Linked DNA regions of Homo sapiens: region 2 is linked to region 1. The links come from fine-mapping of genetic effects on gene expression. A gene starts in region 1. The other region holds a variant in brackets. All regions are shown on one strand. Distances are between the middles of the regions. Region 1 holds the start of AGTR1 (angiotensin II receptor type 1). Region 2 has its middle 41 kb from the start of AGTR1.

What was found. PIP is the estimated chance that this variant, and not a neighbour inherited with it, causes the effect. A credible set is the group of variants that fine-mapping cannot tell apart.
Region 2: its variant is the best candidate, but not a certain one, in a credible set for the expression of AGTR1 in fibroblasts (GTEx, PIP 0.83).

The regions. Positions count from the first base shown.
Region 1 is chr3:148,694,706-148,700,094 of GRCh38, forward strand. AGTR1 (angiotensin II receptor type 1) reads left to right here and starts at 3,198. Exons shown (of 3, transcript NM_000685.5): 1 at 3,198-3,422. It also overlaps the pseudogene RPL38P1.
Region 2 is chr3:148,654,617-148,660,005 of GRCh38, forward strand. No RefSeq gene overlaps it. Among named protein-coding and RNA genes, the nearest start is that of AGTR1, 41 kb to the right of the region's middle. The variant A/G (reference allele first, on the strand shown) is at 2,698.

The DNA.
Region 1 (5,389 bases):
TGTGTGTGCTTTATTATCTTTATATGTTCTATACACAAGTCCTTATCAGGTATATAATTTGCAAATATCTTTGCACATTCTTGGCTTTTTCTTTTCACTTTCTTGATACCCTTGGAAGTATAGATGCTGTTAATATTGATGAAATCAAATTAATTTACCTACTTTTTCTTGTATTTCTTATGCTTTTGGAGTTGTATCTAAGATGGCTTTGCATAACCCAAGGTAACAAAGGTTTACTCCTACGTTTTCTATTTAGTTTTATAATTTTTCTCTTAAGCTTGGGTCTATGATCCATTTTGACTTAATTTTTACATGTGGTATTATAAGGAGTCCAACTTCATTCTTCTGCATGCAGATATCCAATTATTCCAGTACCATTTGTAATAAAGATTACTCATTCTGCATTTTTTCAACCCTTTTCAAAATCTAGTGGCTCATAAATGTAAGGGTTTAGTTTGTGGACACAATTCTGTTCCATTGATCTTTCTATCTATTGCTATGCCAGTACCACATTGTCTTGTTTATTGTAATTTTGCAGTAAATTTTGAAATTGGTAAGTTTGTTCTTTTTCAGAATTGTCTTGACTATTCTGGGCCCCTCGCACTGCTACATGTTTTTAGGATAACTCCATTCATTTCTGCAATAAAAGCTTGCTGGGTTTTGATAGAGATTTTGTTTAACCTGTAGATCATTTGAAGATTAATGCCATTGTAACGATATTAAATCTTTCAATCCAAGAACATGGAATGTCATTCCATTTATTTAGGTCTACCTTATTTCAACAATTCTTTTTGTTTGTTTTCAGACTACAAGTTTTAGATCCTTTTGTTAAATTTATTTCTTAGGGTTTTTTTTGTTTTGTTTTGTTTTGTTGGTTGGTTGGTTTGTTTTGAGATGGAGTCTCACTCTGTCACCCAGGCTGGAGTGCAGTGGCACAATCTCAGCTCACAGCAACCTCTACCTCCTGGGTTCAAGCGATTCTTCTGCCTCAGCCTCCTCCTCCTGAGTAGCTGGAACTACAGGCATGCACCACCACGCCTGGCTTTTTTTTTTTTTTTTTCTTTTGCATTTTTAGTAGAGACAGGGTTTCACGATGTTGGCCAGCCTGGTCTCGAATCCCTGACCTTGTGATTCACCCACCTCGGCCTCCCAAAGTGCTGAGATTACAGGAGTGAGCCACTACACCAGGTCATTTCTTAGTATTTTTACTCTTTTGATCTATAGTAAGTAAAATTGTTTTTATCTTTGAATTTTTAAATTTTTAACACAGTTCAAATCAGTGTGTCTGATTTCATCTCCTTCTCTAACAAACCAGGGTGCCAGAACTGCTTCAGTTTCTCTGCCTTCTCTTTGTCTATGATGACTAATGTATGAAGGTATCTGCTGCATCAAACTTTAAACTTCACATTATCCTTATTTCTCTTGACCTTGACAGATCTGGCATCTTTTCACCTGGCTGTAAGCAGAAAGTCCTTGATCTCCTTAACTTTTTGAGGCATGGCAGCATGTGAGGCAGGGAGAGGACACAGACCCACACAGCAAGTGGTGAGAAGCCAACAGTGGAATTGTTTTCTTAATTCCATTTGTTGATTGTTTATTGCTAGTGTATAGAAATACAACTGATTTTTGTATATTGATCTTGTATTCTAAAAACTTGCTCAACTTGTTTCTTAGTTCTAATAGTTAATTAATTGATTCCTTAGGGCTTTTTAATACAAGATCATGTCATCTACAAATAGAAATTGTTTTACTTTCTTTCTAATCTGGATGCCATTTATCTTTTTTTCTTGTCCAATTGCCCTCACTAGAACCTTTAGTACAAAGTTAAATAGAAATGGGAAGACTAGACATTTTGTCTTGTTCCTGATCTTAGACATAAAAACGTTGTCTTCCGTTATTATGTGTGATATTAGTTAAGTTTTTCATAAATAAACTTCACAGTTTGAGGAAGTTCCTATTCCTAGTTTGTTGAGTGTTAGCATGAAAAAGTGTTGAATTTTGTCCAATAGTTTTTAAAAATTTTTTTAGACAATCATGTAGGCTTTGTCCATTTTTTACTTCTTTAAATTTATTTTTATTGATACACAATAGATGTACACTTTTTAGGTACATGCAATAATTTAATGCCCCTCACTATAAATTCGGAGCTGCCTCCTCGCCGATGATTCCAGCGCCTGACAGCCAGGACCCCAGGCAGCAGCGAGTGACAGGACTTTTTAGGTACATGCAATAATTTAATGCATTCATATAAAGATCAAATCAGTGCAATTGGCATATCCATCACCTTAAATATTTGTCTTTTCTTCATGCTAGAAACATTCAAGTTATTTTCTCCTAGCTACTCTGAAATATACAATAGATTACTGTAAACTACAGTCACCCTACTCACCTATCTAACATTAATTGATTTTTGGTAAACTAATCTAATCTTGCTTTCTGGCATCAACCTCACTTGACCATGGTGTATAGTCCCTTTCATATGTTATTGGATTCAATTTGCCTACATTTTGTTGAGAATTTTTATCTATACTCTTAAGAAATATTGATCTGTAGTCTCGTGATGTCTTTATCTGGTTTTGTTATCAGGGTGATACTGGCCTCATAGCATGAGTTGGGAGATCATCCTTACTCTTCTATTTTTTGGAAGAGTTTGTGAAGAATTGATATTATTTCTTCTTTAAATATTTATTGGGTTTTTAAAATACATTTTTAAAATGCAACTTGGGTAGCATGTCCAATAGGAACAAATGAGTGTCCACCCTTGAATTTCATAACCCTGGAATTAATCCATGTAATCTATGATCCACAACTGTATTACCAAAGTTCGAGTTACTCATAGGAAAGAGAAAGAAGTTCTCTAATTCGTCCTTAAAAGTTTTCCAAGTTCAGAAAAAAAAAATGTTGAAGAACACGAATCTCCGCAGGAAATGATACTCCTGTACCCCCAGCTCGCTCTCCCTCACGACCCCTCGCTAGGCGGGGTTCGGGACCAGGTGAACGCTGATCTGATAGTTGACACGGGACGACTGTGGCATCATCCTTGCTGCCGTCAATATCCCGAGAGGGAGGAGGTTGGGCCGGGAGGGTCTCCCGGGGCGGGGCGGAGGAGGAGGGAATGCAAAACAGAGCCTCGTCCCCGGAACCCAAGAAGCAGCAACGCCCCTCACTATAAATTCGGAGCTGCCTCCTCGCCAATGATTCCAGCGCCTGACAGCCAGGACCCCAGGCAGCAGCGAGTGACAGGACGTCTGGACCGGCGCGCCGCTAGCAGCTCTGCCGGGCCGCGGCGGTGATCGATGGGGAGCGGCTGGAGCGGACCCAGCGAGTGAGGGCGCACAGCCGGGACGCCGAGGCGGCGGGCGGGAGACCCGCACCAGCGCAGCCGGCCCTCGGCGGGACGTGACGCAGCGCCCGGGGCGCGGGTGAGTCCGCGCGGACCGCCAGGCATGCTTGGGGGACTTCAAGGGCGGGGTGCTAAGTTTCATGTCACGGTGTCCTAACTGCTGGCTCTATACTGGGAAGCTCTCGGGGACCAAGGAAAGAGCGACCGTAGTTCTGGTCAGCGCCTGCCCCTGGAGCTGGCCACACTTTCCCAAATCAGGTGAGGGGCTTCTGGAATGGGAGGGAACAAGGTAGGTTTGTTTGCCACGTGCCTCGAAATTCTCAATCCATTTTAACCAAACTCTTCCGAGTGCAAGGAAGAAATCTACAGAAATAAGATGCAATTCAATAAACTTTCTTCCTGAGGCTTTTAGTTAACTCTTGTATTTTAGCCATCATCTGAGCGGGAAGCCGGTATGACTCTGCAAGGCGTTCGTTTAAAAGTTGTGCTACTTTTGAGGTGAAGTTAAGAGTGTCTCCATCCACGCCCTCTGCTTCCCAGTCAATGTCCCTGCACTGCTCACGTCCCTTTAGCTCTCTCCCTGCAAACCATAGCGGTGGGTCCTAGACACGGGACATCGCTCCAACCTTGGCCAAACTCTCCCACCCTCAGGGTTCCCAGATGTCCTTTGAATAATCAAACTGAGGAAGGAGAAGCAAGATGTCTCCACACCCCAATCCCTACAGCCTTAGCCAATGCATGTGTGTAACTGAGACAGAATTTTAGCAAAAGGTCTCCTGCTTCCAGGACTAAACAGAGCCTCTGGCAGGCCACTGCCCGACACCCAACTCCATCCTCCAATTTTCTTAAATGTCCAGGTAAACATCTCCATAGTGCCAGCCTGCTATAGTCTCCCGAAGACCTCAGCAATTCTTCCCCAAAGCGTCTCCTTCTGCACCGTTTTTTTCTTTGGGCAACCATTTGTGACCTGGCTATTGAGCCCACCTGGGCCTCTTCTCTTTGTTTGCTGATAGCCTCGTTAAGTATTAAAAACCTACTCCCCCCCTTCAGGAGCCCTCTTTTAATGAAAGTTTGGGTACTGGGATCAGATTTGGGACTTGGCTACATTTATTTCCTGTGTCATTCTGAGAAGAGAAAGTAATAGAGGCAAGAAATTTGGCACCCTATTGATCTATTTTATTACTTTGTTGAGCAACTTGTGCTTCCCGCTGAAGATGCTGCATCCCAACATGATTCTCTTATTATTAGTTACCACCTGAGGGTTTTGGATCTCCAGGTGTTTATTTCACATAGCATATGCTTTAACCCCCTTATAAGTCTTCTCTAAGGAAGAAACTGCCATACTTCCCTTGTCTTCTCCGGTGTTTCCCTAGCTATAAAGGCCCCACCTGCATAACCTGTCCTCAGGCTGTGATGTATTCCCGGGTGCCCTGGTACCTTCTCCTTCCTCTCCACCACCCTTCCTGACAGTGCAGGGGCAGGAAAGCATGGGGAGAAGGGAAATGGAGACTCCCACTTAACTTGCTGTGTGATAGTAAGAGCATTATTTCACAACTCTGAACCTCAAGTCTCTGCCCATAAGGTTCCCTCCAGTGATATAATTCCTTAATTTCTTTTGTTTTGGTTATTGCTTTAAAATAAAAGTCTAAGCTTAAGGCTAGGTTATAGAAACTGCCCATCATAATTGCTAGGTCTCAACATTTGCTTAAGTTTTGTGATTCTTAGTTTCAAGTCTGTTACCCACTCTCTCTCCCCGCCACCTTTTTTCCCCCTGACTTCATTGTTCTTTGTTCCCATCCTGAGGCCTTGATTTCTGGTTCTGCTCTTCTTTGACCTTAAACTGAATCAACTCTTCCATCATCCAACTCAGAATAAAATTGGTTTTCTTCCACCGGTTCCACTGATGCCAATGGAAGACTTGTCTTCCTTGCGATTTGCAAAATGTCTTTCAGTCACAGGTGCTGCGGCAATGCTGCTGTCCCACAGCATTCTAAGCTTCAGTCTTTCTCTCTCTTATCGTGGGTCAGTATTCAGAAAAGGGCAGAT
Region 2 (5,389 bases), 40 kb before region 1:
CATAGTATTCCATTGTGTATACGTACCATATTTTCTTTATCCAGTCTGCTGTTGATGGGCACCTATATTGATTCCATGTCTTTGTTATTATGAATAGGGGTGTGATAAACATGCAAATGCATGTGACTTTCTGGTAGAATAATTTGTTTTCTTTTTAATATTTACCCAGTAATGAGTTTGCTGGGACAAATGGTAGTTCTGTTTTTCCTTTGAGAAATTTCCAAACTGCTTTCCACAGTGGCTGAACTAATTTACACCCTCACTAACAGCGTATAAGGAGTCCCTTTTTTCTGGAACCTCGCCAGCATCTGTTGTTTTTTGAATTTTTAATAATAACAGTTCTGACTGGTGTGAGGTGGTATCTCACGGTGGTTTTGATTGCATTTCTTTCATGATTAGTGATGTTGAGCATTTTTTTTTTTTTTTTTGAGATGGAGTCTCACTCTGTCACAGGCTGGAGTGCAGTGGTACAGTCTCAGCTCACTGCAACCTCCGTCTCCCAGGTTCAAGCAATTCTCCTGCCTCAGCCTCCTGAATAGCTGGGACTACAGGTGTGCACCATCATGCCCAGCTAATTTTTGTATTTTTAGCAGAGATGGGGTTTCACCATATTGGCCAGGATGGTCTCAATCTCTTGACCTCATGATCTTCCCACCTCAGCCTCCCAAAGTGCTGGGATTACAGGTGTGAGCCACCATGCCAGGCCTGAGCCACCAACCCCAGCCGAGCATTCTTTTATGTGGTTGTTGGCCACATATGTGTCTTCTTTTGAGAATTGTCTGCTCATGTTCTTTGCCCGTTTTTTAATGGGCTGTTTGGGGTTTTTGGCTTTTTGATTTGTTTAGATTTCTTATAGATTCTGCATATTAGAACTTGTCAGATGCAGAATTTGCAAATATTTTCTCCCATTCTGTAGGTTGTCTGTTTACTCTGTTGTTAGTTTCCCTTGCTGCACAGTATGCTTTAGTTTTAGGTTTCTAAATAGACAAACAATTTAGGTTTCTAAATAGACAAATAATTAATTTGTCTAGTTTTGTTTTTGTTGGCAATTGCTTCTGAAGACTTCTTGTCATGAAGTATTTGTCAAGGCCTGTGTCCAAAATGGTATTTCCTAGGTTGTTTTCTAGGGCTTTTATAGTTTTAAGTCTTAGATTTAAGTCTTTAACCCACTACTAGCTGATTTTTGTATATGGTGAAAGGAAGGGGCCCAGTTTCAATCTTCTGCATATGCCTAGCCAGTTATCTCAGAACCATTTATTGAATAGCATGTTATTTCCCCACTGCTTATTATGAATTTTCTCAAAGATCAGATGGTTGTAGGTATGTGGCTTTATTTCTGGGTCCTCTAACCTGTTCCATTGGTCTATGTGTCTGTTTTTTGTACCAGTACCATGCTGTTTTAGTTACTGTAGCCTTGTAGTATAGTTTGAGGTGAGGTAGTGTGATTCCTCTGGTGTTGTTCTGTTTGGTTAGATTGCTTTGGCTACTTGGCTCTTTTTTGGTTTGATATGAATTTTAGAATTTTTTTTCTAATTCTGTGAAAAATGACATTGGTAGTTTTTTAGGAATAGTATAGAATTTGCAAATTGCTTTGGGCAGAATGGCCTTATAACAATATTGATTCTTCCTATCCATGAGCATGAAATGCTTTTCCATTTGTTTGTGTCATCTCTACTTTCTTTCAGCAGTGTTTTATAATTCGTGCCATGGAGATCTTTCACCTACCTATTTAGCTCTATTCCCAGATATTTTATTCTTTTTGTGGCTGCTAAATTGTCACTTCCGAGGGACTAGGAGCCCAGAGATATTTTAATGTTTAATTTCACTTCTCATACTCACCTAGACTTATAGATGGTGCTCAATATGCATTTGTTGAATCTAATAAATTAGATTAGAAACCAGTTCTCTTAAAAGTGAAAACTTTTCTTGTATTTTACCCAAATTTCCCCTCAATGACATTTGGGTCTATACCTGCTCATGTGTCCAATCAATTCAGAATCTCATTATTCAAGAAAAGACCTCAGTTTTGTACTGTCAAAAGAAAAGATGTGTTTGAGATAATGTTCTTCAGTTTAAAAAAATTAAAGTTGTTAATAATTAATGTGTTCAAATCATTTTATCAGATATATGTGTATACGATATGATAGCATATAGTATATATATGTATATATATGCATTATCACTTAGGATATGTAGCTGCAGTATATTTTTAGCTTTGGAAGACAGGACTACTTGTAAGAAATTGTGAGAATTAACAAACAAATGGCTCAAAATATCATACACATATGAAAATTCCTAAAGGGAGAAAACTCTCCATTGGCAAAATATGTCTTGGGGAAATTATGGTTTTTTTCTTCCCCTGTAAAATCTTTGAAGCCATGGAAAATTCCAAACAACAGGTGAGAAAACTAAAAAGTAGCCACTTTACTACCATAAGAAGATATTGATGAAAGGTAGTAACGTCAGCATACACTTCAACATTATCAGCAAGGAAACTTTTTTCCCAAGAAATAATAGAAATAGAGATGAAGAAGGGTTATGTTATAAATCATATTTTGAATTGTGAATTTTTTCAGGTGACTAGACTGAAGGGTAGAAGATGCTAAGCCATTTGCCATTTAATCCATTTCATTTAAAGGATCACTAGCTATATTTAATGACATCCAAAAATAAACTCTTCAGATGCTGAAATACTAG[A/G]CTGGGAAGGCAGGCAGGGGAAGCAGGAAGGTTATTCTGGCTTTATTTCATTTTCTTGAAGGGCAAAGGCGGCTTCTCATTCATAAGAAGAAACTGACCTCAAACTGACAGAAGGTACAAAAAAAAAAAACAACTATACCAGGTCTATGGAACTAGAGTTGACAATTGATACCTATCCACAATAGCAGCAAATTATTTCCTTCTACAGAAATTCAAGACAGAATCCCCACCTCTAATGAAGTTGGAAATTGTAATGGTTATTAATTCGTCTAACTAATGTGAAATTGTATATAGCAAAGTACAAGCAGGGCAAGTACTTGATTTCAAGCAAACGGTTCTTAGTGATTGCATAATACACACTTCAAAGGACCTGAGACTCAACAGGATTTATTTCATTGAACACTTTCAACACCTATTGTAATTCAGCCTTTTTATTCAACAGTAGCTCAAGCACGTTAACATTGTCAAACTGCATAAAAACATTAAGTTCCGAAACTTTCTCCTTGTATTTTTTTATCTTGAATTCACATATGATTATCTTTTTTTTCTTCTTGATTTCAGGTACAAAAATGTCCACATAGATATACCTGTCAAAAATCTACCGTTAGTAATTAGGTAGCTACTACACAGTTGGATGGTTTAGCTAGAATCAGTATATGATATTTTTAAAACAATTTTTTAATGAGATATGGCTGTCTCTCTTACAACACTCTGAATATATCCTATTGCATTTTCTCCTTTCTAGAGCCCCTGTATTCTATCTACTGAAATCTCTGGCTTACTCATGTGGAATGCATTCAGCCTTATTGAGGTGGTAGCTGAATGTCAGAATCAGTAATTATCAGTGGGACACAAGATGGAGACATGACCTGCCAAAGAACATCATATTGTATCACTTATAGTACTTTGTCAAGTTGCAAATATAGAGGATCCTCACTGGAGGTTTGGCATTGATCCCCGTGGCAAGGGTGGATGGGAGCGAACAGCACATCTTGCAGGTTGAAAATTAATTCCACTGCGAATATGTGTCAATCCTTAGAAGTGTTGGTATCAAAAAAATGTTGAGAACTACTCTTCTAAATCCCACCCAACCACCCAGAGATATGCTTACAGCTTTGTTTCTCTTCAAGCACCTGGCATATAAGTGCTTAGAAACTACTGTTAAATAAACAAGTAAGTCAATGCATAAATAATTGAAAGTTTTCACATAATCTGAAAGTTTAAACATTTGCTTTACAGTCTAAAATTCCTGAAGTCATCATTGTGGAACAGATGATTTCACAATAAACACTGATCCTAAACAAAATAACATGAGATCTCTATCAGTGAAATAGTAAAATGAACATTAACTATTCGAAGGCTTAACTAAATGAGGACTCAATTTATTCAGACATCCTAACCTTGTTCCCCCAATAGCCATATCTCCCCTCTCCAAGAGGCCGCATTTGTGTACCTTCTCAAGCCATCATTTCTTTGATGGACCCATACTTGCTCTGGAAAAATCAGGAGCTTCAGGAAGGGTGGAAAGGATAACGATCTTTCTACTATCCATGCTCCCTCTATCAGCCAAGAGTTCCATTCACTTCCTCAGCCCTAATTTCAGACTTTAGTTAAACTGATTAGTGAGAAGTCAGCATGAGTAAAGGAATAAGTAGTTCCCCATGGCTGAGACAGCTAGCTGATCCTTAAACTTGGTGCTCCTCCCTTCCATAATATAAGTGGTTATTGAAAAGTTACTGTCAGTTAGGGTCTACGTTTCCTGACTTTTCTTGCATTTAAGAATGGTCGATGTGACTAGTTCTTGCCGGTGGACTATCAACAGAAGTGAGATGTGTTGCTCCTGTGCTAATAGAGTTTAAACAGAAGAGCCTTCTCCTCACCCCCGCTCTCCTCTTTTGCCAGCTGAATACCAGGGAGACAAAGTCTTAGAGAATAACGGAACCACAAAGTGGAAGAAATCTGGATCCTTGAGTCACTACATGGTGTAGAAGACTGGCACTCACCAGTCAGGAACACTACCACTGGTCTTTTACATGAATAAGAAATAAATTTGTGTTCTGTTAAGTCACTGAAATTTGAGGATGTATTTATGATAGTAGCAACAATTACACTAATGAGTACATTTCTCCACCTATTTACTTGATGCTCCAGTAATAACAACCTACGTGCAATTTCCCGGCTCCACCAGGCAGTTTCATGCCTTCATGTGTTTGCACATGCTGATCCTTCATAATTCTTAATTTTCTCTACCTATTTTCTCTCCTTTCTGGCACTTTTTCCTTCACTGACTCTTACTAATCCTTAAAAACTCAGCTCCTAGGCTTCTGTGAAGCATTACTCTGCCAACAGGCTCCATTCCTGCCATGTACTTTCCTAGTCTGTACATAATTCCACTTTTGCATATGTCACAATATTTTAGGATTCTCGGTTTATAAATATGTCAACCTTACAACATACACATTTGTCATATTTCTACCCTGTAAAGCTTCCAACAGAGTGGTGATACATAAAAGATGATTTATGACTGTATGCTAGGTTCCTATCTCATTAGGATTTTATTTTAAATTAATCTGATCCATGGAGGATTAGAAACTAAGAGTCTGTTAGCCGTTGGAAGATGGTGACAGCAATGAAAGAGAGGAATCCTGGTGTGTGCTGCTAATTACTCTAGAATAACAGCAATGCAAGCTTG